2 separate regions of the Homo sapiens genome follow, and region 1 is linked to region 2. Evidence: fine-mapped expression QTL. A gene starts in region 2. The other region holds a variant in brackets. All regions are shown on one strand. Distances are between the middles of the regions.

What was found. PIP is the estimated chance that this variant, and not a neighbour inherited with it, causes the effect.
Region 1: its variant is fine-mapped to the expression of NLN in whole blood (INTERVAL, PIP 0.97).

The regions. Positions count from the first base shown.
Region 1 is chr5:65,780,648-65,796,459 of GRCh38, forward strand. It overlaps NLN (neurolysin), which reads left to right. Exons shown (of 13, transcript NM_020726.5): 6 at 614-774; 7 at 5,128-5,263; 8 at 7,471-7,837; 9 at 11,807-12,008. Among named protein-coding and RNA genes, the nearest start is that of NLN, 66 kb to the left of the region's middle. The variant A/G (reference allele first, on the strand shown) is at 7,391.
Region 2 is chr5:65,715,488-65,731,299 of GRCh38, forward strand. It overlaps NLN (neurolysin), which reads left to right and starts at 6,718. Exons shown (of 13, transcript NM_020726.5): 1 at 6,718-6,927. The coding sequence starts at 6,887. It overlaps SGTB (small glutamine rich tetratricopeptide repeat co-chaperone beta), which reads right to left and starts at 6,622. Exons shown (of 11, transcript NM_019072.3): 1 at 6,430-6,622; 2 at 5,221-5,342. The coding sequence starts at 5,320. RefSeq lists silencers at 3,952-4,148, 6,193-6,242, 6,303-6,352, 6,423-7,032, 11,818-11,867 and enhancers at 7,309-8,130, 7,903-7,982.

The sequences.
Region 1 (15,812 bases), 65 kb after region 2:
TACTCAGTCCTGGGTCTTTTTTCTTTTCTTTTCTTTTCTTTTTTTGAGACGGAGTCTCGCTCTGTTGCCAGGCTGGAGTGCGATGGCGCAATCTCGCCTCACTGCAACCTCCACCTCCCTGGTTCAAGCAATTCTCTTGCCTCAGCCTCCCAAGTAGCTGGGACTACAGGCATGTGCCACCACGCCCAGCTAATTTTTGTACTTTTAGTAGAGACGGGGTTTCACCATGTTGGCCAGAATGGTCTCGATTTCTTGACCTCATGATCCACCCACTTCAGCCTCCCAAAGTGCTGGGATTACACGCATGAGCCACTGTGCCCAGCTTTCCTGGGTCTTTCTTCACTTAATTTTGCCTGTTCTCCACTGAAACATCATTTGCACAAGTTTACTGAAACCTGTTCATATTTTGAATTGCCGTCTCCCAAGGCACCTGGCCTCTAACAGCCACCCCAATTCCAGCAACATCAAAATGATATTTAAAGGATTGTCATTATTTTACTTGAATTTCAATTACTACACAAAATTCCTAGAGCTACCAAAAGGCACCATGCCAATACTAAATAAACCAGCAATGAGTGGAAAATTTGATATATGAGAAAATGATTTTTTGCAGGTGCTCTTCCTGATGATTTCATTGACAGTTTAGAAAAGACAGATGATGACAAGTATAAAATTACCTTAAAATATCCACACTATTTCCCTGTCATGAAGAAATGTTGTATCCCTGAAACCAGAAGAAGGATGGAAATGGCTTTTAATACAAGGTGCAAAGAGGTATTATAAATGTTTGTCTTTCTTTTGTTTTTAATGGAATATTTTAAGAAAAGGGTTTACTTTGTTCACCAGTGTCAAAGTCAGCTCAGAGACTGATATTCCTGTGTGTGCACTGTATCTCTAATTCCTCAGACTTACAAGACTTTTAGCTTTTTCATTGCTCATTGACAACCTGCTTGGTGTGGTCACAGGATAAGCTGTTCTAATAAAAATAGAATGGATTAAATAAATTAGAATTCTGTTGCTCCTCTCCTAAATCAACAATCCAGCACTGGTAAGTCCTGCTTTAATATGAAAAAGAAAAAAGGAAGAAGTAGACAGGGATTCTCAGTCATCTAGCCAGTTCTACCGTGATCTGCCTCTCTAGCTATCCAAGTAACCATGAGGACCCTTTTTTCCTTACATAGGACCCATTCACCATTTGTTAATTCCCAGTTACTGCCTGAAGCTCAAAGACCAGGATCTCTGGGTGATACAGTTCTTCCTGGTTGTAGCTTCTCATAATCCAGCAAACTATAAAAGGAAGACAAGTTATCAGCTCCTCACCCCCACACCCTCCCCCAACACTCCCAGTGATGGCATAGGAAAAGAATAACCGCACTGAAAAGTCCCATTTGGAAAAAGAAAGACTGGGAAACATAGCAAGCTCATAGCAATTTTCTAAAATTTTCAAATTCCTCAGGAACTGGGAAGATTCTGTACTATGGTGACGTTTCTTGGTTAGCTTGTTGGACTAAACTTGGGTCTGCTTTCTCATAAGAATTCCTTTATCAATTTTACTCCATGGCCCCCAGTTTTGCCCACAGGGAATTGTTTTTGTCCATTATCCTTGATGACCATATCTTGGGGGACTGCTGGTCCTGCTAATGTCAGGTAGAATCCCAAGGGTTGCTTTAGGGATCAAATAATCCAAACTTTTGTAGGCCAGACTTACGATATCTTTGGTAATACAGCCTCCTCAAAAATGTAGGTTTGTTGTCTGTTTGCTGCTAATCAGATGCATGTCAAAATAACTATACCCAAATATCACTTTTGGTCATAGTTCTTAAACTTGCCAAATCTTATATACTGTCTTCTGAATTTATCCATCTCACTCTTCCTCCATTTAATGAAGTCTGCTTTCAGGCCCTCTGAACATAGTGAGCTTGTGGAGGAAGGCAGCATTCTCAAATTCATGTCTGCAGTTCAGTAACTCGGAGTGACAGCCTTTTCTCTTAACACTAGGAACACAGAGCAATTGGCTTTTCCAACCATCTGAAGATTGTAGGCCATAGGCAGAACCTCCCTGAGCAGAATTCTTTTCCTTCCATCTTTAGAAACTGGCCAATTCTCACCCAAGCTTATCTCTCCCATGTAATCTTTCAAAAAGCAACAAATGCCAAAAAAACACCTCCCAACAGTATTAGCTTTCCCAAACAATTCCTCTAGGCTAAGACTCAGTAGGTACATGGCCTGCTGTCTGAGTTATGGCAAGCAACAGTTTTCACAAATGCCCATGGTATAATGAGAACCTGCTTCCCAGCCTGCAATGTCTGGGTCCTTACCTTCCATTCCTGTACATTTTTCATTTTTATTGTTAGTACCACCCAATTTCTGGTATTAATCTCTACATATGTTAGGGTCCAGGCTAAGGGACTTGACAGAAGTCAAAAGCACAGTTAACTCAAATAAGATAAAAGTTTTATCTTTCCAGAAAGTAGATTAGAGGTTACCAGGGAATGGGGAGAGGGAAGACTGAGGAGTTAATGGTTACAGAGTTTCTGTTTGGGGTAATGGATAAGTTTTAGAAACAGATGATGGTAGTGGTTGCACAATAGAATGAGTATTATTGCCGTTGAATTTTACATGGCTAAAATGGCAGATTTTACCACAATTTTTTTTTAAAAGATTTGTCTTATAACTGTAAGTCAAGAGGTGAGTGGTCCAGAGGTGGAAGACAGCTCTACCATCCTCAGGGTGTGGCTTTCAGGGTCATTGAGGTCATCTTCAGTTCACAGCCAGCAAGGCAAAGATCTATCAGACATGACCCAGAAATTTCACTCATCACTTCATTCACATCCCATTGTCCCATTGAGTATCACATGGCCACAGCTGGCTTTGAGGAAGGCTGGGAAACGTAATTAGGTAACCAAGTGTCCGGCAAAAATTCAGAGTTCAGCCAGGCACAGTGGCTCACACTTGTAATCCCAACGCTTTGGGAGGCCAAGGCAAGAGGATTGCTTGAGGCCAGGAGTTCAAGACCAGCCTCAGCAATATGGCAAGACCTCACCTCTATGAAAATTAAAAAAAAAAAAAAAATTCAGAGTTATATTACTAAAAGAAAAAATGAGAGAACAGATATTGGGAGAAAATTGGCAGTCTAGAGAGAAGATCTGGAGAAACTGCAAAAAATGAAAGAAAAATCTAATTAAACTATTTAATTTTAGAACTTGGAGAATTACATTATGTATGTTTCTCTTCTATGTTTTCCATTTTAGTTTTAAAATAATAATAATTATAACAGATAATTATATAGTGTTTGGTTATGTGCCAGGCATTTGTCTAAGCACTTTACATATATTTTCATTTGAATCTTCATGATTACTCTCCAGTGTATGTATTTTTATTTTCCACATCTTGCAAATGAGAAAACTGAGGGTCAGAAAGCTCCAGAATTTGCCCAAGATCAGGTAACTAGTAAATGGTGGAACCAAATTTTGAATGCAGGTAGTGTGACCTCAGTGTGTGATTTTCCTTAGAAACCAGTCTATAAATAATTTGCTGATTTGATTATTGGAATCAGTTTTTTCTTTTACTTTAACATTTACTTACTTCCTCTAGGAGAATTACTTTTATTTCATTGCTAAGAAAATAATAAAATAATATCAATTTTTGTATTTTTAATACAAATAAAATATAAAAGATATTTGTAATGTTAATTTGGGAAAAATCCCTGAAACATTTTTAAAAGCAGAATTTTATGGTGCCTTAGTTCATTTGTGCTGCTATAACAAAATACCACAGACGAAGTAATTTATGAACAATAGAAATTTTTCACAGTTCTGAAGGCTGAGAAATTCAAGATCAAGGGGCATCGGCATTCAGTGTCTAGAAAGGGCCTTTTTTCTATATCCTCACATGGCAGAAGGGGGAAGGGCAGAAAAGGCCCAAGTTCTTTAGCTGTAGCCCTTTTATAAGGCACTAATTCATTGGTCAATTCCCAAAAGGCCCTGCCATTTAACACTACCTCAAAAGGGATTATGTTTCAACACATGAATTTTGGGGAACATTCAGACCATAGCATGTGGCATTAAGTATATTCACATTGAGAATATGTTTATATTTTTCTGCAGCCATCACCTGTATCCACCTGCAGAGTTTTTTCATCTTCCTTAACTGAAACTCTACCCATTAAGCATTAACTCCCCATTATCCCCTATCCCCAGGCCCTGGCAATTACTATTCTATTCTGTGTCTCTGTGAATTTCACTACTCTAGGAACTTCATATAAGTGGAATAATAAAATATTTGTCTTTTTGTATCTGGCTTATTTCACTTAGCATACCTTAAAGGGTCATCCATGTTGTAGCATGTGTCAGAATTTCCTTCCTTGTAAAGGCAGAGTTATATTCCATTGTATATATATACCACATTTTGTTTACCTGTATATCTGTCCATGGACACTTGGGTTGCTTCCATCTTTTGGCTGTTATAAATAATGCTGCTGTGGACATGGGTGTATAGATCTCTCTTCGAGTCTCTGCTTTCAATTATCTTTGTTATTTACTGAGATGTAGAATTGCTGGATCATATGGTATAATTTTTTTAGGAATCACCATACCGTTTTCTACAGCAGCTAAACTACTTTACATTCTCATCAGCAATGTGCAAGGGTTCCAATTTCTCCATTTCCTCACCAGCACATTTTCTATGTTTTTAAAAATAGTAGCCATACAACTGGGTATGAAATTAAAAAGATAAATTTTACGTTATGTGTATTTTACCACAATAAAAATGTCCAAAGGAACTGAAAGTACCAATATTTGGTGCAGTTCTGTCAGTAGAAGTAAATATGGATTCGCTATATTCCTTAAAAATATATTTTCACTCTAAGTTTGTAGCACCTACAATTTTATTAAGACCTCATAGTTCTGAAGTTTAAAAAGTCATAAATTGTTTCAGAAATAAAACGAAATCATGAATCCAAAAAAAAAAAAAAAAGCCTATAACACCAAAATGGAACCAGAAATTTAAATGGTCTAAAAATATTTGATAATTTTACAAACCTAAAAATACATACAGTAATTCTTCCTTTTAGTGCTTTGGATCAAATTATTGATTAGCCTTTATTTTGTTGCTGTTGTTTATTACTAGGAAAACACCATAATTTTGCAGCAGCTACTCCCACTGCGAACCAAGGTGGCCAAACTACTCGGTTATAGCACACATGCTGACTTCGTCCTTGAAATGAACACTGCAAAGAGCACAAGCCGCGTAACAGCCTTTCTAGGTTAGTTCTTTTTTTTTTTTCTATGACTGTTTTGCTATACCATGTCAACCAGACAGAAGGCCTCAGAACATAATATGCCTTTGAGGACATCCTACTTTTCCTTCATTTGAGAGAAGTATATTGATCACCTATTAAGTGTTAGATAGTGTGCTTGGTTGTAGGGACTGCTTATTGTTTATATTGCTAGTATAGGCCTGGCTTCACTGTATCTTATATCTTCTTTAGGCTTTTTATACTAATTCCTAACATGACATGTAGGTTCTAACAGAGAGTTACTAAAGTTACTGGCTTTATTCTCTTCACTAGGGATTTAGTAGTCATAGCATGGCTGCTTATGAATTTGTATAAAATAAGCTGACAAATATGACGTACATAAAAATAAAACATACATAAACAAAAAACATTTAATATTCCAGAAACCACTTGTTAATATACAAAACTAATATAAAATAATATACATAAAACTAGTATCTAATAACTAATATAAAATAATATGTATAAAAACTGTTATCTAGTAACTATAATGTTAAACTCCATAAATGGTACATATTTGTTTTTGTATAATTCACTCATTCATTCATGAGACGTTTATGAAATAACTATTCAGCCTTAGGCAGTATGCTAAATAGTAGGATTACAGAAAGGAGTAAAACAAGGTCCTTTTGGCTGGGCATGGCAGTTCATGCCTGTAATCCCAGCACTTCGGGAGGCCGAGGTGAGAGGACTACTTGAGACCCAGAGTCCAAGACCAGCTTGGGAAACAAAGAGACCCCAACCCTGTCTCTACAGAAAAATTTAAAAATTAGCCAGGCATGGTAGCACATGCCTGTAATTCTAGCTACTTGGGAGGCTGAGGTGGGAGGATCCCTTGAGCCCAGGAGTTCAAGGCTGCAGTGAGCCATGATCATGCCACTGTGCTCCAGCCTGGGTGACAGAGCAAAATCCTGTCTCTAAAAATAAAAATAATTTTTTAAAAAGAGACAAGGTCTTTTTCTCAATGGATTTGTCACTTACTAGAAACAACAGAAGTGTGAACAGGTAATTACTCTACAGTCTGATGCATGGTATACAAGAGGATGGCTCAGAGAGTTAACAGGTTTGTAAAGAATGTTTCCTTCAGTGGTGATTGCATACACTAAAATTTTCCTTAGTAACCACCTGATTAACTTAATTCATTTAAAGGAGTTTTCCTTCTAATTTGAGATTGGCATATTCCTATGCAAAGTGTCCTCTTGAGAGGCTAAAGTGCGAGGATCCCTTGAATCTGAGAGTTGGAGTCCAGCCTGGGCAACATAGCAAAACTCACTCACTCTCTCTCTCTCTCTTTATATATATATATATGTATGTGTGTGTGTGTGTGTGTGTATACATACATGCGCACACACAGACACATGCACGCACACATGCACATGGATATATATATGGAAAACTATATCTTTGTATCCTCCATGAGTTTCCTCACTTCTCTTCACGGTATTCCTCGGGCTGCTCCTCCATCTCTCACATTGTGAGGTTGCCTTCTGAACTGCCATGTCCTTTGCAGAGCCAGGCATGTTTTTATCGTAACGTATGTAACAAAATGTAAAAAATAAATACATAAGACCATACTCATTTATCCAAATACAGTAAAGTGAAAAATTGACCACAGCAATATAATTTGTGGTTCTCAGAAGTTTCTCCAGCTAAAAACTGGAATTGCTGTGTCCAGATAAACCTTCACAGAAATGGGGTAATGAGAAACTAAACCCAGTGATAGGAATTTCTAGATAACATTGACCACAGGTCACATCTGATGTGTTTTCCCTAGCTTTCTTAGGAGTCTGACTGTCTTCATTGAAGAATAATCATGTACATGACTTTAGTTTCACTAGTGCTTTTTTCCCTGAATAACATTCTTCAGTCAGCGTTCTCTGAGATAAACTTGAGCTTTGGTGATGAATTGAGGAACTCATGGCCCAGTTCTGGGGGTGTTAAAAGAAAAAGGGGCTAGGACCATAAAATCAATAACCCCGAAGAGCAAAGTGTGCTTCCATAATACAGCCTGCTTTCCTCCCTCACGTTTTTCCTCCTCCTTTACCTCTTTCCGCCTTATTTATCTGTATTGAGTACTGCAAAGGAGGAAGCACC[A/G]TGCTAAAACACAGGTGGTATTTATGAGTATGCTTGCTTCCAAAAGCAAGTAGATCACTAACTTTTCCTTTTCCTTACAGATGATTTAAGCCAGAAGTTAAAACCCTTGGGTGAAGCAGAACGAGAGTTTATTTTGAATTTGAAGAAAAAGGAATGCAAAGACAGGGGTTTTGAATATGATGGGAAAATCAATGCCTGGGATCTATATTACTACATGACTCAGACAGAGGAACTCAAGTATTCCATAGACCAAGAGTTCCTCAAGGAATACTTCCCAATTGAGGTGGTCACTGAAGGCTTGCTGAACACCTACCAGGAGTTGTTGGGACTTTCATTTGAACAAATGACAGATGCTCATGTTTGGAACAAGAGTGTTACACTTTATACTGTGAAGGATAAAGCTACAGGAGAAGTATTGGGACAGTTCTATTTGGACCTCTATCCAAGGTACTGAGGATCACGTTGTTGGAAGGGACCTTAGGGATTCAGCTATGCCTACTTTAAGACTCTACTCTTGGCCAGGCACAGTGGCTCATGCCTGTAATCCCAACACTTTGGGAGGCCAAGGTGGGAGGATTGCTTGAGGCTAGGAGTTCGAGACCAGCCTGGGCAACATAGTGAGGCCCTGTCTCTACAAAAAATTTAAAAATTAGGTCAAGTGTGGTGGCTCATGCCTGTAGTCCCAGCACTTTGGGAGGCCGAGGCAGGTGGATTGCTTGAGTCTAGGACTTCAAGACCAGACTGGGCAACATGGCAAAACTCTGTTGCTACAAAAAATACAAAAATTAGCCAGGTGTAGTGGTACATGCCTATAGTCCCAGGTACTTGAGAGGCTGAGGTGGGAGGATCACTTGAGCCTCAGAGGTGGAGGCTGCAGTGAGCCAAGATTGCAACACTGCACTCCAGCCTGGGTGACAGAGTGAGACCCTGTCTCAAAAAAAAAAAAATGAAAAATTAGCCAGGTGTGGTGTGCACACCTGTAGTCCTAGCTGTGCTGAAGCAGGAGGATCACTTGAGTCCAGGAGTTTAAGGTTACAGTGAGCTATTATCACACTGCTGCATTCTAGCCTAGGTGACAGAGCTAGACCCTATCTCTAAAAAAATTAATTTAAAAAAAGACTCTACTCTTCCATATTTCTCACATGGGCTTCTTAGTATACAGATTTAAAATGTGGGTCTGAAGCCAGAATGTCTGGCATCATCATTTACTAGGTAGGTTACTTAATTTTTCTGTGCCCCAGTTTTCTTACCTATATTATAGGTCCTATAAACTGGGAATATTAGTAGTACCTGCTTTGTATGGTCACTGTAAGGATTAAATTGGTTGAATACATGCAAAGCATTTAGAAGACTGCTCAGCACATAGCAAAGGCTTAATCAGAGTTAGCTGCTACCATTGTCATTATCATCATCATCTAGTTTGTGCACTACATTTACTTAATTGAATATTGACCACCACCCAGACATGGTGGCTCACACCTGTAATCCCAGCATTTTGGAAGGCTGAGGTGGGCAGATCACTTGAGGTCGGGAGTTCAAGATCAGCCTGGCCAATATGGTGAAACCCTGTCTCTACTAAAAATACAAAAATTTAACAGGCATCTGTAGTCTCAGCTACTTGGGAGGCCAAGGTATGAGAATAGCTTGAACCCTGGAACTGAGATCACGCCACTATACTCCAGCCAGGGCGACAGAGCAAGATTCTAACTCAAAAAACATAAATAAATAAAATTGAGCACCAAAATATTTATTAGATAATCTGTCTGCCAATAATCTATGGCCACTCCCTTCAGTCTGGCTGAGAGGCAGCACAGTTTAGTAGAAGTAGCAAAACCTTTGCAGTCAGTCAGATTTGAGTTTGAATGCTTGAGTGACATAACCTCTTTGAGATTCTGTTTCTTCCTCTGTAATATGGGACTGGAAATCCTTTTACAGGATTGTTTTATGCATTAAAGACTATATGTGCAAATCATCTTCCCCAGATATCAGTGGTAACAATTATAAAAATGTTATAATTGTGTCTATAGCATGTAATAACTATAGATTCCATAGTGTTTCATCAGATACAAAAGGATTTGGATCTCTTTCTCCCCAGGCTACTTTCTAAAGCAAAGTCAACCTCTTACAATTACTAATCATTTAAATAGATCAAAGGAGAGTATAGTATCCCCCTCATTCAGTAATACACACAAGTTTGTAATCCACTGACTTTGAGTGCTGAAAAGTAGGTTGAGTAACTGTGTCATCTAGTTGGTGGGCAGAAGTGTCTTTTAGCACCTAAGTGATTATCCTGGTGTATTAGTCCTTTCTCACAGTGCTGTAAAGAACTGACTGAGACTGGGTAATTTATAAAGGAAAGAAGTTTAATTGACTTACAGTTCTGCAGGGCTGGGGAGACCTCAGGAAACTTACAATCATGGCAGAAGGGGAAACAAACACATCCTTCTTCACGTGGCGGCAGGAAGGGGAAGTGCCAAGCCAACAGGGGAAAGCCCCTTATGAAACCATCAGCTCTTGTGAGAACTCACTCACTATCATGAGACTGGCTACCCCATGAATCAATTACTTCCCACTGGGTCCCTCCCACGACACGTGGGGATTATGAGAACTACAATTCAAGATAAGCTTTGGGTGGAGACACAGCCAAATCACATCACCTGCTGCTTTATGGACTTACTTTCACTAATATTATGACCTAAAAGTAAAACCCTGCCAAATATAGATGAGTCTTATTTTTAAATAAAAAGTATCAGGATATAGTTTTAACCGAAGAACTCTTTCAGGAGTAATCCTTTAATATTGGAGTCTCCTATAACTGTCCTCAGATTTTCTTTCCAGCGTCAAATAACAATTCTTGCTACCTCATTCTGCTGTCTCACTGCCAGGATATAATTAATTTCTTTTGTACTGAGAGATCTGGTCATTGCTACCAGCACCCTGGTGTGGGTAACAGAGAGTAATCTTTGTGAAAGTAGTGACCTAGTTAATACTTACTTCCTGTCATCTTAAGATGTTCTCTTCATAAAGGTAAAAGGGATTAACTTGTTTTATTTGTCTAACTGACTTTTAAAAAGGGTATTCAGAATAGGTTTTAAAAAGACCAGGTACTGTCTGGGTGCAGTGGCTGTAATCCCAGCACTTTGGGAGGCTGAGGCAGGTGGATCACTTGAGGCCAGGAGTTCAAGACCAGCTTGGTCAACATGGTGAAACCCCATCTCTAGTAAAAATACAAAAATTAGGCTGTGCACAGTGACTCACACCTATAGTCCCAGCACTTTGGGAGGCCAAGGAGGGCAGATCACCTGAGGTCAGGAGTTTGAGACCAGCTTGGCCAACGTGGGAAAACCCCATCTCTACTAAAAATACAAAAATTAGCTGGGTGTGGTGGCAGGCACTTGTAGTCCCAGCTACTCTAGAGGCTGAGGCAGGAGAATCATTTGAACCCAGGAGGTGGACATTATAGTTAGCCAGTATCTTGCCACCGCACCCCAGCCTGGGCAACAGAGCAAGACTCCGTCTCAAAACAAGAGAACAAAATTAACCAGCGTGGTGTTGTATATATGTAATACCAGCTACTCAGGAGGCAGAGGCAGGAGAATTGCTTGAACCTGGGAGGCAGAGGTTGCAGTGAGCTGAGATCATGCCACTGCACTCCAGCCTGGATGACAGAGCAAGACTCTGTCTCAAAAAAAAAAAAATAAAAAGACCAGGTACTATTAGTCTTCTGAGCAAAAGAAAAGGGGGAAAGGACACGTACTCCCAAAATGAAGTCTGATAGCTTTTGGAGAATGAAGTCTAATAGCTTTTGGAAAGACCACACAGATACGACACTGTACAAGAATAGTCTAATTGATAGTATAATTTATGCATTTTCCCAGGCTAACTAAAAGCATTCTGTTTCAAAAAGGCCTGTCTAGTTTATAAAAGAAGCTTATTTAATTGTGATTACTGATTCTTTCCTCCTCAAATAAAAGGAAAAACCTTATCGTCAGAAATTCAGTTTTTTATTCCGATTTTAATGAAAAGGCTGCCTAGTGAGTCAAACTGTATCTTTTATTTCAAATGTGGGTTTCAGCATTGTTTAGTGTTTAGTAATCCCATCTTTGAAAAAGAAAAGTAGAACCTCATTAAAATAAATTGGACATTCAGCTGTCGGTGTGACATGCATTCTTCATTCTTACCTCGAGATTTTTCAATAAAAGAAACTTCGGAGCTCACACAGAATGTTAGTGGGGTTATTGTTTGTTTAGCTTTAGTTTTTCCATTTTAGCAAAATAACCTACTTTCTAAAAGGTAAATTAATGTTTAAAGGCATCTCTGGTAACAGATATGGCTTAATGACTGGAAGAGGCCATGCCAGTGTAGTTGCTAGAGGAGAATTTTCCTATGTTGCCAACGCGTGTTTCTGGCTCCTAGGGAAGGAAAATACAATCATGCGGCCTGCTTCGGTCTCCAGCCTGGCTGCCTTCTGCCTGATGGAAGCCGGATGATGGCAGTGGCTGCCCTCGTGGTGAACTTCTCACAGCCAGTGGCAGGTCGTCCCTCTCTCCTGAGACACGACGAGGTGAGGACTTACTTTCATGAGTTTGGTCACGTGATGCATCAGATTTGTGCACAGGTGAGTTTTTTTTTTCCCCCAGTAAACCTGCCAATTAGTTTTTTTAGAAAACTTCTTGACTGCTGTCAGGTTTCTGCTCCTAACAGGTTTTTTCAGAAGCTGAATGTGTTCAAGAATTTTATAGGCCTTCTGCAAAACCAAAATTTTCCTTATCCTGTCCTCTTTCACAACATATTTTTACTTGGAGGTTCATCTACCAGTGAAAGATGTTTGTTGAATAACAGCCTATGGAAAAAGAATAAGACTATCTGTAAGGAAAGGTTACAAATACTTTGCTTTTTCCTTTTAATCCTTTAGGAATTTGATATAAATTTCTCAGAAAAACTGTGCTGTAATCTGTCTCTTCTGCTTATCAATGCTTTGTTTACTTTAGTGGTTTTTCAATCCTCTTAGACCCTTTACTCATTTTTAAATAATAATTTTGTAACATTTGCCTTTACTAACTTCAAATTAAAATCATAGATAATATAGTCTAACCATGCAAAGAATTTGCCAGAGTGGAGGTGTATGTGTGCAGTAGATTAAAACTGATTTTTTTATTTCTGAAAATAAAAAGTACATTTATTCTCAACTTTGTAATACAGTCCATTTAATTAGGCCCAGACTATTCTAGCATGAACCATATGAACTTGCTAACATTTAACCATTATTAACATATGAAAATGTCTAGTTCAGCAATTCACCGTAATAGTTGAAATATACTGTTATTTGGCTGGGCATGGTGGCTCATGCCTGTAATCCCAGCACTTTGGGAGGCCAAGGTGGAAGGATCGCTTGAGTCTAGGAGTTTGAGAACAGCCTGGGCAACGTGGTAAAACAAACAAAAATTATCCAGGCATGGTGGTATGTGCCTGTGGTCCCAGCTACTCGGGAGGCTGAGGTGGGAGGATCACTTGAGTTCAGGAGGTTGAGGTTGTAGTGAGCCATGATTGTGCCACTGCACCACAGCCTGGGTGACAGAGCAGACCTTGACTTAAAAAAAAAAAAAAGAAAACCACCCAAAAAACTGATAGTAACAGAAATGAAGGTACAGTTTTCCAAATTTGAAATCTCTGTATGTCTCTAAAGGTAGACTTAAAAAACAACAACAACAAAAACAAAAACATTTTTATTAGGATACTTTTAGATTCATAGAAAACTTGCAAAGATGATATAAGGATTGCCTGTATACCCCTCAGCCTCTCACCCCTACTTGTAACATCTTCCATTCCAATAGCACATTTGTCATAGCTAAGAAGCCAGCATTGATACAGTACTCCAGACTGAACACCACAGTTTATTTGGATTTTACTAGTTTTCCTTAATGGTCTTTATACAGAGAATCTTCTTAAATCCATACGGTGTCCTCACTGAATATAAATAGAAGAAATTTTTGTATTTTTCAAGTGATAATGCTTGGATATGACTATGCAGTAAGACATAATGAAGTATGCTGGAGGTTTGCACTGTATGGAAGTAACCCTGAATGGAGCAGCAGCAAGTGCAAACTGATGGAAGTGGTTTATGTTGTCAGCTCAGGTCCTAGAACAGTGCTGACAATGGTGGCATGAGGTTCCAAAATGATGAACACCTCCTGGGAAACTTCAAAAGAAAGTAATCTCACTTCAACTTACACAGTAGATCCTAGTACTTGTAGTCTTAGAAATTAAAATGGTGTAAAAAATGCTTCGCAAGGCTAGGCATGGCAGCTCACACCCACAACCCCAGCACTTTGGGAGGCCAAGGGCGGCAGATCGCCTGAGCTCAGGAGTTCAAGACCAGCAACATTGTGAAACCCAGTCTCTACAAAAGATACAAAAATTAGCCAGGTATGATGACACACACCTGTAGTCCCAGCTACTCAGAAGGCTGAGGCAGGAGGATTGCCTGAGCCCAGGAGGTCGAGGCTGCGGTGAGCTGTGATCGCGCCACTGCTCTCCAGCCTGGGTGAAAAAGTGAGACCCGGTCTCAAAAGAAAAAAAAAATGCTTTGCAAAAATATGTACAGTGGGGTTAGTTTCTCGGTTTAGTTACAGCTAGTTTTTTTGATTTATGTGAATAGTCCAGCAGGGGGTATGAATGACGAGCAGGATATGGAACAGTCTTTTTGTTGTCCTGACATGTGCAGAATCAGTCCTGTGCATCCAGCATCCCTATATCCCAGAGTAGCCCTAATCATTGTAATAACCCAAAATGTACCCATTCATTTCCAAAATAATTCTGTCACCTTTGTTTAAAAACTGGTTCTTTCAACATTTTATCTTTAACCTGGTGCTTCCATCTTTTGTTTTAAAAAACAGAGGGGAATAGTATATGAGTATGTCCAGAGAAATGTCCTGATATGGCCATTTTTAATCTCTCTTTAATCCAAGGAAAATAAATCTTTCAGAATAATCTTTCTTTCTTAGGTGTTTTTAAAATTCATTTTCATAGCACTGACTGGGCGTGGTGGTTCATGCCTGTAATCCCAGCACTTTGGGAGGCCGAGGCAGGAGGATTGCTTTGACCCTAGGGGTTCAAGACCAGGCTGGGCAACATGGTGAAAACCCATCTCTACCAAAAATAAAAAAAATTAGCTGGGTGCGGTAGTGTGGCTAGGCTTTGCAAGGCTAGGCATGGCAGCTCACACCCATAACCCCAGCACTTTGGGAGGCTGAAGGGGGAGGATGGTTTGAGCCTGGAAGGTGGAAGTTGCAGTGAGCTGAGAGTGTGCCATTGCACTCCAGCCTGGGCAATAGGGCCAGAGCCTGTCTCAAAAAATAAATAAGATAGGCCAGGCATGGTGGCTCACACCTGTAATCCAAGCACTTTGCGAGGCCCAGGCAAGTGGGTCACCTGAGGGCAGGAGTTCGAGACTAGCCTGGCCAACATGGCAAAACCCCATCTCAACTAAAAATACAAAAATTAGCCGGGCATAGTGGCACATGCCTGTAATCCCAGCTACTCAGGAGGCTGAGGCAGGAGAATCGCTTGAACCCAGGAGGCAGAAACTGCAGTGAACCAAGATCGTGCCACTGCACTCCAGCCAGGGTGACAGAGTGAGACTCTGTCTCAAAATAAATAAATAAATAAAGTCTATTATCATAGCACTAGGATTCCTGAAATATTTATCGTGTGGACCTTCTATCAATGTCCACACTGTGGTTGACATTTCCTTTAATTAGGATAACTCCAGTTTACATTTAAAAAAATTTTTTGTAATTTAGAAGTCAAAAATATTTTTCTTAATTTTAGACTTATGGTATATTACTTATATTATCCAAAATCCAGTTATATGTTTGTACATAGATTAATAATGACCTGCTTTTAAAATAGTGGATGCTCACATTTTTGGATCTGAGGACCCTATGAAAATCTGATTTATGCTGTGGGTACCTCTTGTAGAAAAATACACCTACAAATATGCATGAAATTCCAAAAGGCTCACAGACCCCTCGAAGCCCTCACCATAATGAATCTCAAGTTAAGAACTCCTGAGTTATAGCAGTTTCCTTCTTATTTGATGATTTCACAAGGAAGCATTTTGGTCTTTTAATCACATTTATTAAGATAATAGTGATCTTCAAATAGGGTTTTCAGTGCTCTTGATGCATGTTCGTTTTTCAGGCACAGTCCTCTTATCAACTTATTATCATATGCTTACCATGTATTCCATCAGTTCTCCACAACTCATTCCATTGTTCCCATTATTTCTTACATTAATTGTGATCTTTTGAGATAGTCACTTTAGTACTAGAAAGATCTTTTCTTGGTACTCTGACATTTTAGAGCTGTCTGACTCGTGACTGAACTATTAATATATATATTGCATTCACCAGCTTAGTGT
Region 2 (15,812 bases):
CAAATAGACTTAGAAACTAAGATCCAAACCAACTAAGGGAAATGCCCGAGACCATTGGATTCAATTCAACAAATATTTATTAAGCACCTACTATGTGTCAAGCACTTTTCTAGACACTTTTGACATATCAGTGAATAAAACAGAAAAGATCCCTAACCTCTTGGGATTTCCTTCCTAGTAGGAGATGGAGAGGTGGACCATAAACAATAAACAGGTAGTAAAGGGTAAGGAGGATGGAGAGTGTGGGCAGCTGAGCAGAAAAGCAGCTGCAGGGTTTTTGTTGTTGTTGTTGTTGTTTTTGAGACGGAGTCTCGCTCTATTGCCCAGGCTGGAGTGCAGTGGCGTAATCTTGGCTCACTGTAACCTGTGCCTCCCGAGTTTAAGCTATTCTCCTGCCTCAGCCTCCTGAGTAGCTGGGATTACAGACGTGTGCCACCACGCCTGGCTAATTTTTGTATTTTTAGTAGAGAGGGAGTTTCACCATGTTGGCCAGGCTGGTCTCAAATTCCCGACCTCAAGTGATCCGCCCGCCTCGGCCTCCCGAAGTACTGGGATTACAGGTGTGAGCCACCGCACCCGGCCCACAGCTGCAGGTTTAACAGAGAGTTCAGGGTAGGCCTTACTGAGAAAAGAGATTTGACAAAGACTTAAAGGAGACGGGGGTGTTAGCATTATCTGTGAAGACCATTCCAGGCAGAGGAACCAGCCAGAGCAAAAGCCCTTAGGCAAGAGGATATGGTACATTTATAAAGAGAAAGCTAATAATGGCTGAAGCCAAATGAGAAAGGGGAGGAGTAGGTGAACAATATGTCACAGAAGTCAAATTATATAGATCCTTTAAACAATGTTTTGAGTAGATAAATGATAGAAACTCACATACTCTGTTTGTAAAGATCACTGGTGCCTGTGTTTGGAACAGCCAATGGAGGGGCAAGAATAGAAGCAGAGAGACCAGTTAGAGGCTATCACACTAAAACAGTCAAGAAATAGTTCAGTCCAGAGGTGGTATAAGAGATGTCAAATCTAGACATATTTTGAAAGTGTAGCCAACAGGATTTATTGAATGATTAGTTACAGGGTATTTGAGAAAGAGAAGAGTCCAGAATGATACCCAAGTTTCTGGCCTGAGCAACAGAAAAGATGACGCTGACATAAACAGAGATTGGGAAATTGCATACAGAACAGATTTTGGGTGGGGGAATCAGAAGTTCGGTTTTGGCCATGTTAAATTTGGGATGCCTATTAGACATGCAAGTGGAGATATCTAGTAGGTACTTGGATATATAAGACCTTCAGAAGAAAGGTCTGGGCTGAGGGCATAAATTTGGGAAATAGCATATAAATAAGGGGTATTTAAGGCTAAGAAGCCGAATGATATCACCAAAGAAATGGGTATAGATAATGAAAAGAAGAGGATCAAGCAGTGGACCCTGGGTACACCAGGTCAGGGAAAAGAAGAGGAACCAGAAAAGGGGACAGAAAAGAAGCAAACAATGAGATAAGAAAGCCAAGAAAGTATGAGGTATCCTGGAAACTAAATAAAATATACTGGGGGTGGTGGGGGTCATTTCATGAGGAAATGACCATCAACATTATCAATGACAGCTAATAACTCAGATGAAAGCTGAGAACTGACCATTAAATTAAACAACACAGAAATCACTAATGTCCTTGATGAGAGTGGTATAGATTGAGAGATTGAGGCAAAGGCTTAATCAGAATGGGTTTAAGAAGAATAGAAGGAGAGGAGTTGGAGAAAGCAAGTATAGACCATTCTTTCAAATGGTTTTGCTGCAAAGGGAGACATACAATTAAGCAGTAATTATTTGCTGTTTGTTTTTGCTTTTTTGAAGAAGGGAGAATAATGGTAAGTTTATATGATGATGGAAATGATCCAGTAGGGTATGAAAATTTTATGATGTAAGATTAAAAAAATAAAATAACTAAAGTGATATCCTGGAGTAGGTGAGACAGGATGGGATCTAGTATACCAGTAGAGGGGTTCCATTTAGAAAGGAACATGAATAGTCCATCTATGGTAATAGCTAGTCAAACAGGCAGGCAGGCCGAGTATGTGGGTGCCATCATATCCAGCTATTTTCTTATTATTTCAGCTTTCTTGGTGGAGTAGAAAGCAAGGTAACCAACTAAAAGTGAGGACAGTGAAGGAGGTTTGAGGGTTTGAGAAGATATGAGAAAGTGTTAAAATGGTCATCTAGGAAAATAAATGTATGAATGAACTTAGAACAGATACTGTGATTGCCTGACAGCATTAAAGGTCTACTTGAAGTTCACAGTCATGAATTTAAAGTGGGACTAGTCAGCAAAGTTGTGTGTTTTGCTCCATTTATTTACGGCTACATGAGTGGGTGTGAGTAGTTGGGCACAAAGTAGGTGGAGAGTTGGATTTAAACAAAGTTGGGCTTTGCAAGAAAGGGAAGGAGATACAAGGGAATAATTATAATTATCAACCATGGAATTTAAGATGAGTAAGAAGAGGTGTGGGGAAAGGTGAGGCATGAACAGATTGGAGGTACTGGTTGGGTCAAAGAATAGCTGGAGTAGGGATTCTAGAGGGAGTAATCTTGGAAAGACAGGCAATAGTGGTCAGGAAGTGAAATGTTTGGGATAGAGATTAGGGAAGGAATGCAATTCTGGTAATGATTAAGTCTAGGGAAGGCTTTCTCAATCTCCGCATACTGACATTTTGGATCAGGTAATTTCTTCTTGTCAGGGGCTGTCCTGTGCATTAGCAGCATCCATGGCCTCTACCTACTCACTAGATGCCAATAATACCAGCCACCCGCCTCACCCAGTTGTGACAATCAGAATGTATCCAGATATTGCAAAATCACCCCCAAGTTGAGAACCACTGATCTAGAATATGATCAAGTGTTTGAGATCACTGGATGAGGTCAATAACTGAGAGCCAGGGAACTAAAATAATCATCAATCAGTATATTGCAATTGCCAAGAACTAAATAGGAGTAGTGCTAGAGAGAGTGACAGTGAGCAGGAACCACAATTAGTCAAGGAATGAAGCAAATGTCAGTAGATGACAATAATTAAGAGGAGTGGGTGACATAATCTGATGGCAAGACAAAGCTGATGATATACCAGCTTCACAGTAGTGGTAAAGCTGGTATTAGAACTGAGGCTTCTTTCCTAGGGCTTTTAAAAATGTCTAGAAGGTGGGCAGACACCTCCACATGATTTCATGTTCAATTAAATTAGACTCACAGAGTCAAAAATAGGGGTCAGTCAAAAACAATTGGCACCCTTTCTGACTGCCATATATAACAAACAGCTGAAGGCACATATTTTTGGCTGAATACCATCCTAAAAATAGGACATAACATCTTGGTTTGAAAAAAAAACCCTCAATTTTCTTTCTGGCCCTTAAAACTTTTATGCTGCTTTTGATTAGAAAAGAAACATCTTTTCTTAAATGACTGCATTTATCTGTTTGCTACAGAGCAATCATAACTAACATTCTCCTTAGATAACCAATCAACTTTATTTTCACATAGTCTAATCATCAAGGAGAACAAAAAGACCTTAATATTAAATGGACTGATTGCAATGTTCTCCAACTGTGCATCACCTGCTCCTCTCACTGCCACCTGGAAAGACATCAACTAACCAGACTGCAAGGAGGTTTAGAGCAAATGCCCAATTTTCATCTCCACCTCCTAAAAGCATATTCACAGGGAAATGCTTGTTGAAATTATAGAAGCAGTTTCAAGATGGGATTTATAACTATACTGTCATTTATTAAGTTCTTCCAAATGCACTCTCACTGCAATAATTAAGACTTTGGGGCTGGGAGGGGTGGCTCATGCCTGTAATCTCAGTACTTTGGGAGGCCAAGGCGAGTGGATCACTTGAGCCCAGGAGTTTGAGAACAGCCTGGGCAACATGGCGAAACTCTGTCTCTACAAAAAAAAATACAAAACTTAGCCGGGTGTGGTAGTGTACTCCTGTAGTCCCAGCTACTCAGGAGGCCGAGGTGGGAGGATCAATTGAGCCCAGGAGGTGGAGGTTGCAGTGAGCCGAGATTGTGCCACTACACTCCAGCCTGGGTGACAGAGCCAGACAGACCCTGTCTCAAAAAATAAATAAATAAATAAAAGACTTTAGGCCACAGGGACACCAGATTCACTGAACCTCCACAAGCCCATCTGCAGAATTCTACCTTGTTATGGTTGTACTGAATTTAAATTTTATAACACATAAACATGAAGAACAAAGACGGTGTCGAGGAAACACATGATGCTATCACCCACATCCTGTTCAACTTTACAGATTACCGAATCCAATATTAAAGTTAACGTAAAACACAGGTGAAATGCTCCCATTTCAAGTTCCAAATTAGGCACTGGTCAGATCTCACTAGTGGTATAATTATTAGACTTTTACATAGTGCTATTAAAATGACTCAGGTATTTTTATATATTATTTCTAAACTGGATGCTTTCCTATTAGGAAATGGAGACAACAAGATCTTCAGAGTATTAACCAGGATTTAAATCTCAGCTTTATCACATATCAGCTGTGTTATCTGCTTACGCTATTTGGTTTCATTTTCTTTTTCTTTTTTTTTTTTTTTTTTTGAGATAGGGTCTCGCTCATGGCCCAGGCTGGAGTGCAGTGGTGTGATCTCAGCTCACTGCAACCTCCACCTCCTGGGTTTAAGCCACCCTCCTATCTCAGCCTCCTGAGTAGCTGGGACTACAGGCAAGTGCCACCACACCTGGCTACTTTTTGTATTTTTAGTAGAGACAGGGTTTTGCCATGTTGCCCAGCCTGGTCTTGAACTCCTGACCTCAAATGACCTACCTGCCTCGGCCTCCCAAAGTGCTGGGATTACAGGCATGAGCCACCAAGCCTGGCCCTGGTTTTATTTTCTCACTTGTTAAATGGGGATAATACTAACATAACAGTTGCTGTGAAGAAAAAATTGCCTATAATATGAACAGCATACTTCTGACATATAGTATTTGTTCAATAAATGAACAATAGTCCTCTTAATTTGTTGTTAAAACAAACAAAACAAGCTTCAGAAAATGGAAATACGATAACCTTATAGTCAGGCCTCTCCTCTTGAAAGATCAAAAAAAATTCTGATTATGTTACAATAGATCATCAAGTTGGGCTTACAGCTATTTTAGTCTTCGTTTATAATTATAATATAAATGAACACAAAGAGCAGATGCATACCTTCCAAACTTTCTTGTTCATCCGAGGTGTAAGTGTCCATCTGACTTTGTTCCCGTAAGAAACGAATAACTGCATAAACCAGGTGCTTGATAGATGACATTTTAGAAGCTTAAACACTTTTCCTTGATAAGAAAAATGAAAACACTGAACTAAGTTATTTTAAAGAATCAGTCAGGAAAGTCATAAATTACAAAGATGATATGGGTTATAAAGTGTATTAAAGGTAAAAACAAAACACAAAACTGTATGACCTTTCATCTTTTCTCTTTGTAAAGAGTCAGGAGAGCACAAAGTATTGTGAAGGTAATTTATTACATATTTTCATTAATACCCAGTGGTATACGAGTATGTTAAATCTTGGAATAAGTAAAAATGTCTTCAAAACATGTACAGCATAAGCTTAGACTGTCACTGCATATCTCACCATACAGAAATCCCCTAAAGGCCTCAGTACTAAGTTAAGAGGCATTTCATACTGCTGACTAAAAGCTGATGTATACCAAGCATCTTCCTCTTTTTCATGGGATCTAAAAAAAGTATTAATAATGTACACTCTACCCACTTTTGTAGGTTGAGAGTTATTTGATGAGGAAACACATTCGCGAAAGGTTATTCAAGTGGTGAGTGTCGTTCTTAATAAAAATGGCATTTCTATTTAATCAGCAGACATGTCAGGAAATCGCTGCCCAAGTCGATGGATACTACAAGCCGACCGGCGCTCCCTGCAGAGGCTGTGCTCTCGTGGACAAGCTGGAAGCTCCCGGTCATGTTCATTCACATGGAATACTATCGCATCCAAACAGTGGCGCAGGGCCAGGCGGCATTCATGGCTGATTTCCACCAAATCGCATCATCCATCTGCTCCCCAGGTTCCCTAATTCAAAGCCAGGGTGTGGTACCCGCCGCTATAATGTTTATTATTTGTGTAGTTATTTTAAAGGCGATGTCAGCCTCTAGGCCACGGGGTCATAAGCACTAAATAAGGCCCCAGGGCAGAAGGTAAAAACAGAATGGGGGGAAAAGGGGTGAGAAGAGGGAAATAGGCTTCTCCCCCTTCCTCTCCCCAGAGCGCATCGAGCTCCCCCTCCCTTCCGTCCTCCCTCAGGTACCCGGCCTCGCCTCGGCCCTGCCCGGTGTGCAGCGGGTGCCGGTGCGGGCCCCGGTCCGGAGCGGCGGGAGGCGCACCCTTGCCAGACAGAAGCCCCTTACCAAGCAGGAGGACGCGAGACGACTGCTGCTGGCCCGCGGGGTTCCGTAGGCAGGCCCGCCCGACCCCTGGTCCTCGGGGCTGGAGCCCGGCTCGGGATCGCAGCACTGGTCGCGGCGGCGCAAACTTCCCCGGCCCCTAGGCCGTAGACCCCAGAACCCACCAGGCTGTGCTCTCTCTCAGGCGGCAGGGTCTGGCCAGCACCGCCCCTGGGGCGGGGCCGGACGCGAGGGCTGGGGCGGGGCCAGACACGCGAGCTGGGGCGGGGCACGGCGCGGGGCGGGGCTGGTAGGCGCCGGCGTGGAGCTGCCGCACGTGGGAGGGCGCTGGCCAGGCAGCCACTGTGGCCTCTGCGGCTAGGCCGGCTCGAGACTCCCGGGCGCCCAGGCGCTGCCGCCCGCCTCGCCGCCCCACGCCGAAGGACCACGCGCCCGCCGCCGCCAGCCTCTCAGCGCTCCCATGATCGCCCGGTGCCTTTTGGCTGTGCGAAGCCTCCGCAGGTACCTCCAGCGCGCGGGTTAACCTTGGCCGTGGGCAGGGCGGGGTCTTTCGCCGTGTGGTGCCTGGAGCCCGGACCCACCCCTTCCCGACCGCGCCTCTCCGACGCTCCCGGGACGCACCCTCCCCGCGGCTTGCAAGGTGGACCCCTGGGGGACACCTGGCGCGGCCACCTGGGGCCACCTTTCCCGCCTCCGCTCCCTCGGGAGGACGTCCATTCCTCTTTGTTTGGGACTGCCTCAGCCGCAGTCAGCGAGGCTGGTCACAGACGCGGCCCAAAATGAATGCAAATAGTTTGGATAAGAAAATCATTTCACGTTCAATCCCAATGCAGAACTACAGACCTGTCATTAAAAGTGCCGCAGCTGTGGACTCAGAACAATTGTGTTTGCTCCTCGCGCCCATTATTAGCATTCCAATCGTTTAACATCCACCCGAGATGAAACCTCTTTGGTGGTGTTGCTTGTTTCCGTCCATGCTCTCTGACTTCCTTTTTTATTTTCCTCCTCCCCATAAAACAAACATTCTGCCTCTTGCCGGTGCAAATTGACTTGGCCCAAAATGGAGAAAATGATCGCTTGGACACGGCTTTGGGCAGCCTGAGCTGCTGTTTTGGATTGCTTCCTAGCCCTCTAACCACACCCCACTGCAACAGACCAGTAGCAAGATGGTGAGGGAATTAAATTCTTTGCACGGATGCGCTGGTTTTCGGAAACAATGCCGCCACCATCCCCGTTTCCAAATCTGCCCAGAACTGTAAATCCAAATGAAGATTCAACAGAATAAAGAAAATGTGTGCTTCTTGCTAGCTATCAACAAAACTACTTTGTAACATGTCAGCATTTAAGCTTTCTACAGTTCCCTTTTGCACATTGCCACTCGTCTGTGTGGATGGAGCTTTGTGTTGCTCAGTCCGTAGAGTTAGGGAGCAGGCAGGCGACAGTGGTTAATTACAAAGAGTTAATGTGGTGATTGGTGACCATATTTCAGCCTGTCGTTTTTTGCTAGTCTCCAGGCTGCAATCGATATAGCTGTCAAATGAAGTTATACCAAGAAATGAAGACTTCACATAATGCAGGGGTGAGAGGAGGGAATAAATCTTCATATAAGAGCAATTCTCGGCCGGGCGCTGTGGCTCATGCCTGTAATCCCAGCACTTTGGGAGGCCGAGGCGGGTGGATCACGAGGTCAGGAGATCGAGACCATCCTGGCTAACACGGTGAAACCCCGTCTCTACTAAAAAATACAAAAAATTAGCCGGGCGTGGTGGCGGGCGCCTGTAGTCCCAGCTACTCGGGAGGCTGAGGCAGGAGAATGGCATGAACCCGGGAGGCGAAGCTTGCAGTGAGCCGAGATCGCACCACTGTACTCTAGCCTGGGCGACAGAGCAAGACTCCGTCTCAAAAAAAAAAAAAAAAAAAAAAGAACAATTCTCAAACTTTTTATTCTCAGGACCCCTTTACCTTTCAAAAATTACCGTGGACCTAAGAGCTTCTGTTTGTGTGGTATATCTGTCTATATTTACCATATTAGACATTAAAGCTGGAAAAAAATTAAAGTAGTTGTTAATTTACAAAACTAATAAATAGGCTAGGTGCATAAATAGTGATTTTAATGAAAAATAACTATTTTCCAAACCAACCCCCCCGCCCCCCAATCAGTGAGAAGATTAACATTGTGGGGTTTTTTCCCTTTTTTTTAAAATTGTGGTAAGATATAACAAAATTTACCATTTTGATAATTTTTAAGTGTACAATTGAGAGGTACAGCCAACACCACTGTCCATCTCCAGAACTTGTCATCATCCCAAACTGAAACCCTGTACCTATTACACAATAACTGCCCATTACTTCCTCCCCCAATCCCTGGTTAACCATTATTTTTTCTCTATGAATTTGAGTATTTCAGGTCCCTTATATAAGTGGAATTAGACAATATTTGTCCTTTTGCGTCTGGTTTATTTAGTATAGCGTTTTTAAGGTTTATTCGTTTTGAAGCATGTGTCGGGATTTCCTTTTTAAAACTGAATAATATTTCATTGTATGTATATACCACATTTTGTTTATCCATTTGTCAGTGGACATTTGGGTTGCTTCCACCTTTTGGCTATTGTGAATACTACTACTATGATCATTAATGTGCACATGTCTGTTTGAATCCCTGCTTTTAATTCTTTGGGATACTGTATGTACCTAGAAGTGAAAATTGCTGAGTCATAGGATAGTACTATGTTTAGTTTTTGAAACCATACTGTTTTCTTCAGTGGCTGTACCATTTTTACATTCCCATTGGCAGTACCTAAGGATTCCAATTTCTCCACATCATCATCAGCACTTATTTCCTGGTTTTGATAACAGTTATCCTAGGAGTGGCATTGTTTCTTTTTTTTTTCTTTTTTTTTTTTTTTGAGACAGAGTCTCTCTCTGTCGCCCAGGCTGGAATGCAGTGGCGCTATCTCGGCTCACTGCAAGCGCCGCCTCCCGGGTTCACGCCATTCCCCTGCCTCAGCCTCCCAAGTAGCTGGGACTACAGGCGCCCGCAACCACGCCCGGCTAATTTTTTTTTTTTATTTTTAGTAGAGACGGGGTTTCATCCTGTTAGCCAGGATGGTCTCGATCTCCTGACCTCGTGATCCGCCTGTCTCGGCCTCCCAAAGTGCTGGGATTACAGGCGTGAGCCACTGCGCCCGGCAGAAGTGGCACTGTTTCGCATTTTTGCAAAACTAATGTGTGACATAATAGAAGGTAACTGGATTCTTATGTCTGCCTCTGCATTTAAGCTGCTGCACTGTTTCATTTTGGTTTAAGATGAAGAAAATCCCACCTCACAGTCATATGAAGTTGGAAAGAAGAATATTTTAATAGCTTTTTAAAGATAATCATGGATGTTCTTTGATATCACATCAAAGTTTGACAAATCGTAGCTTTTTAAAGGTTAGTTACAAAGTGGAATTTGAAACTATATCAATGTACTTGTTTTACACTGTTACATTAATATCCAATGGTGTACCTTACACTTTGAATGGATGTTGAATCCATGCCTGTTTTTTAAAACATTAAGCATAAGTCCTTCGGAAATTTTAGTGGTTCACTGTGTTATACAGTTCTTCCTAATGTTGACATATTTCATTATACAGTATCAAACAATCACTTTCCTTAATGTCTTCCTATTTAGTCGGAAAAGTCTTCAAGTATTGGGAAGCTGTCAAGCTCACAGTGGCAGATAGGATTTTCCAAAATTCTAGTTTTCACTTGAAAGCTAGAATTTTATCATTGGTAACACAAACTGTCAGTTGTTTTACTTGAAGTGACAATCTCACTTTGTTACATTTTTGACAGAATTTCTGCCACATACTTAAGTCTGAATAACCCTGGTTTGTCTGTCAGTAGTTTTTTTCTGGTAAAAATGGTGTTCCATGGGCTGGGCACGGTGGCTCACGCCTGTAATCCCAGCACTTTGGGAGGCCATGGCAGGTGGATCACGAAGTCAGGAGATCGAGACCATCCTGGCTAACACGGTGAAACCCTGTCTCTACTGAAAATACAAAAAATTAGCCGGGCGTGGTGGCGGGCGCCTGTAGTCCCAACTACTCGGGAGGCTGAGGCAGGAGAATGGCGTGAACCCGGAAGGTGGAGTTTGCAGTGCGCCGAGATTGTGCCACTGCACTCCAGCCTGGGCGACAGAGCGAGACTCCGTCTCAAAAAAAAAAAAAAAAAAATGGTTTTCCATGAAAAAAATCTATTTCAGCTCACAGTTCAACCAATTGCAAAAGTGCTTTTGATTTGGGCAACCAAATCCTCAGGACAACCCTTATACTCAGGTACACAGCAGAAATGCTTTGTGTGTACTTGGTCACATATAACTCAAAGGTAGAGATTTAATAAAAATTCATACTTTTTACCATTTCATTAAGGATATTCTAAAATGAAATTGACATTATTTTTAGCCTGAGTGCATGGCAATGAAAAATATAGCTACTAGTATAGTTTGGTGTCATTGCCTCAATTTGTGCTGAAGTACCAACAGTATTATCCACCATTCCTTTTCGCCATCAGTGCAAATGTTCATAAAGTAAAAAGGATAAATAATGTCTTAGTATTGTTATGAAAGATTTTTAACCTCACAGATTCCTTGAAAGTGTCTCAGGAACCCCTCCCCATACCTCTACCTTTAAGGTTTGTGGACTACATTTTGAGAGCTGCCGATATGTGGTATTAGATTCTTTGTTTATGCATGGAAGAAAATAAATATACTAATAGCCAAAAAATTATTACCTTGTTAGAAGCTACCATAAATATATTAACTAATTTGTTACATAAGGGCATATCTTACAGTTAATCATCATATATGGTAGTCCTTAACCCAGGGCTTCCTTGACTTAATCACAGAATCTGCTCTGTTTCAAAATCAGTATCTTCCAAAAGAGTTCATATTAGACAACATGGAGGACCCCCTGTGTTCTCCTGTTTTTCCTGTTTCCTCTGACACTTGGGAGTTCATTTTAGTGTTATGGAGTAACTAGGCTTTTGCCTAACTGACTTACAGTTTCCATTGGGTTTTCTTGTTGGCAGAGCTGCTATATCCCCTTCCCAAGGCCAGCTTCCAGCTAGGATCATTGATTGGGGTGTTCAGCCAACTTCTTGGGAATAAGTGGACTGAGAATCTGGAGTTTGGATTATAGTTGCTGTTCAATTCACTTTGTGACCTTAAAAAAATCACTCACTCCCTTGGACCTCTTTCAAGTTATGTACCTATGTATGTATGTATTTTAGAGACAAGGTCTCACTCTGTCATCCAGGCTGAAGTGCAGTGGGGCATGATCATGGCTCACTGCGGTCTCAAACTCTGGTTTCAAACAATCCTCCCTGCCTCAGCCTTCTGAGTAGCTGGGACTACAGGCGCTCACCACCATGCCCAGCTAATTTGAAAAAATTGTTTGTAGAGATAGGATCTTGCTATGTTGCCGAGGCTAGTCTAGAATTCCTGGCCACAAATGATCCTCCCATCTCAACCTCTGAAAGTGCTGGGATTACAGGAGTGTACTATCATGCCTGGCCCAGGTTCCTTATATTGTAAAATGAAAAGGACTAGACTAAATAATAGCTAAGGCCTTAAAAAAAAAACAAAAAGCAAAAAACCTCTATATTGCCATAGCAAACCAGGAGAATTCCTCCTCCTACCTCAGATTGTACAGCATGTGACCCAAGCAAAGCCTAATGTATATTATAGAATAAGAGGGATGAGTGACATGGTCAAAGAAACAAACGAGAAGGTTGACTCAACAATATTTAGCCGAAACAATAGCTGTAATAGCCTAGCTTCCTCTTGCAATTAGAAAAGACAGCTTGGTTTGTTTTTTGGTTTTTGTTTTTTTGAGACAGTCTCGCTCTGTTGCCCAGGCTGGAATACAGTGGCATGATCTCGGCTCACTGCAACCTCTGCCTTCTGGGTTCAAGCAATTATCCTGCCTCAGGCTCCTGAGTGGCTGGGATTACAGGTCCCCACAACCACGCCTGGCTGATTTTTTGTATTTTTAGTAGAGCTGGGGTTTCACTATGTGGGCCTGGCTGGTCTTGAACTCCTGACCTCAAGTGATCTGCCCACCTCAGCTTCCTAAAGTGCTGGGATTATAGGCGTGAGCCACTGCACCTGGCCTAAAAAACACAGCTTGGTTTTTTAAAATGATGACAGCAATGCGTGTTCATTATTGAAAACTTAGCAAGTAATGACAAGCAAAAGAAAATATTAAATATATATATAATCCAGCCACCTGGAACAGCCAATTCTTAACAGCTTTCAAAATTTCCTCTATGAACAGACTTTCTTTTTATAAATATGATATTGTTATTCTTTTATAATTTTTAATATTATACAAACATCCCCTAAAATATAAATAGCTATAATATATTCCTTTTGGGGATGTATGCAATTTGATTAATATACGCCTTTAGAAATGTCAACTATTCCCAACTTCCTGCAATGAGTAATAGTGCTTGGATAAACATTCCTATTGTCCTTTTCCAAATCTTTAGTTATTTTCTTAGTATAAATTCTTACAAATGGAATTTGTACATCAAAGGGCATGCATACCTTTCAGGTCTTTGGTACTTATCATCTTATTCTATTCTAAAAACTTTCTCCCAAATTATAACCTTACCAGGTGAGTAAGTAAATGCTGGTTTCCTATACTGTTACCAACATTGAGCATTTTAATTTTTTTTATCCTTACCAGTTTGATAAGTGGAAATTTCTCTTATTATAATTTGCATTTTCATACATTTTTGGAAGGTTTATTCAGTGAGTATAATTCCTAAACAAAAATTCAGGAGTTGTGGTCTGGAAACCAAAAAGTTATTTGTTGTCTGATGTGAAAATTTATTTATATGGAAAATCTTAGAAAGTCAGACAAATTCAATTACAGTTTTCTTGGTGTTTTTGTTTGTTTGTTTGAGACAGAGTCTCACTTGGTTGCCCAGGCTAGAGTGCAGTGGCATGATCATGGCTCACTGCAGCCTCGACCTCCCGGGCTCAAACGATCCTCCCACTTCAGCCTCCCGAGTAGCTGGGACTACAGGTGTTTGCCACCACACCCGGCTAATCTTTGTATTTCTTGTAGAGACAGGGCTTCGCCATGTTGCCCAAGCTGGTCTCTAATTCCTGGGCTCGAGTGATCTGCCCGCCTCAACCTTCCAGAGTGCTGGGATTACAGGCATGAGCTACTGGGCCCAGCCTAAATTACAGTTATTAATAAACTTAACAATATTTACAGGTCTAAGTGTAATTAAATAAAATTGAGATTATTCCTCTAAAACCAGTAGGCATAATCTCCAAAATGTTAAGAGAACAGTATTGGGGAAAAAAATCTAGTAAAGAAAGGGTTTTTTAAGTTAAAGTATCAAGAGCTAGGTTGACATTATTTGTACAAATGGATTTGGTTATAAAATAGGTTTTCTTTTCTTTTTTTTTTTTTTTTTTTTTTTAGGATGGAGTCTTGCACTGTTGCCCGGGCTGGAGTGCAGTGGCACGATCTTGGATCACTGCAACCTCCGCCTCCTGGGTTCAAGTGATTCTCCTGCCTCAGCCTCCGGAGTAGCTGGGATTACAGGCACCTGCCACCACGCCCAGCTAATATTTTGTATTTTTAGCAGAGACGGGGTTTTACCATGTTGGCTAGGCTGGTCTCGAACTCCTGATCTCATGATTCACCCGCGTCGGCCTCCCAAAGTGCTGGGATTACAGGCGTGAACCACCGTGCTCCGCCGAGGATTGATTTCTTTCTTTTTTGTTTGTCCTTTAACCCTGGTTTTGGTCAGAAGCAACCTGGTTCTTTCTCAGAGTTAAACATTATCACCTCTTTGGTTAAGACAAAGCACAGGACTTACTTGGGAAGAATCCCCTGAATTAAAGATATGAAGAACCAAGGAAACTGATGTGTATTGAATACATATGTAAATGCCAAGCTGCCGCATTGCAAAGTGCATGTAGCATCATAGAGTCGACTATATAAATCTAGAAACAGCTCGCCTGAGTTTGAATGCTGGTTTTGCCACTGACTAGCATTGTGATCTTAGGCAAGAATACTTAAGTTCTCCGTATCTGTTTCCTCCTCAGTAAATTGATAATTGATTGGCTGATTTCTTCATTCACCAAATATTTATTGTCTATTATATGCGAAATAGTATTCTTGGTCTGGGGATATAGCAATGAACAAAGCAGATAAAAATCTTTGCATTAATGGAACTTACATTCCAGTGGGAGAGACAACTAAGGAAAATATAAAGTAAGTTAGATGGGAAAATGTGCTGCAGAGCAAAAGTAAAATGGGAAAGGGGAATGCTCAGTACCGATAGGAAGGAAATTGTAGAGTCAACAGGAAAGGCTACCAAGAAAGTGATATTAATACTTGAGTAATGATCTAAGAGAAATGAGCAGTTGTGCTATGTGAATACCTGAGGCAGGTCATTCTAAGCAGGAGAAACGGCACACACCAAGGCTCTGAAAGCAGGGCTATGCCTGGTGTTTTTGAGAAAGTAAAGAGACCATTGTGACTAGCATGGAATAAATGTCAGGCAAGTAAGTAGGAGATGAGACAGGGAAAAATTGGACTCATCCTTTTTTTTCTATTTTCTTCTTTTTTTTTTTTTGTTTTATTCGTTTGTTTTTAGATGGAGTCTCACTCTATTGCTCGGGCTAGAGTGCAATGGCGCAATCTCAGCTCACTGCAACCTCCTCCTCCTGGGTTCAAGCAATTCTCCCACCTCAGCCTCCTGAGTAGCTGGGATTACAGGCACCCGCCATCATGCCCAGCTAATTTTTGTATTTTTTGTAGAAACAGGGGTTCACCATGTTGGCCAGGCTGGAACTCTTGACCTCAAGTGACCCACCTGCCTCTGCCTCCCAAAGTGCTGGGATTACAGGCGTGAGCCACCGTGCCTGGCCTGTACTCACCTTTTAAGATTGAAACAAATATAGAACACTTTGAACATTGCCTGGTTATATCCATTCCTATTACCACAAAAATGCTGTATAACAAACTGAATTTCAGTGGAGTACAATGATCAATGTTTATTTTTGCTGACAAATCTAGATTTTGGCTGGGCAGTTTTTCTGATCTTAACTCATTCATGCTCCTTCAGTCAGCCATGGGTTGTGTAGGCAGCTCTGCTGATCTCTGCTATCCTCTCTCACATGTTTGGTGATGTAGGATGGCCACAGCTGGGGCTATTTGGCCCTCTTTCCTGTGACGTCTCGTCCTCCAAGAAGCCACCTCTGGCTTGTTCTCATGTCAGTGGCAGGGTTCCATGAGAGAGTGGAAGGCAGTTGGAACTGGAACCTCATTAGCTCTGCCACATTCTACTGGTCAAAGCAAGTCACAAGGCTAGCCCAG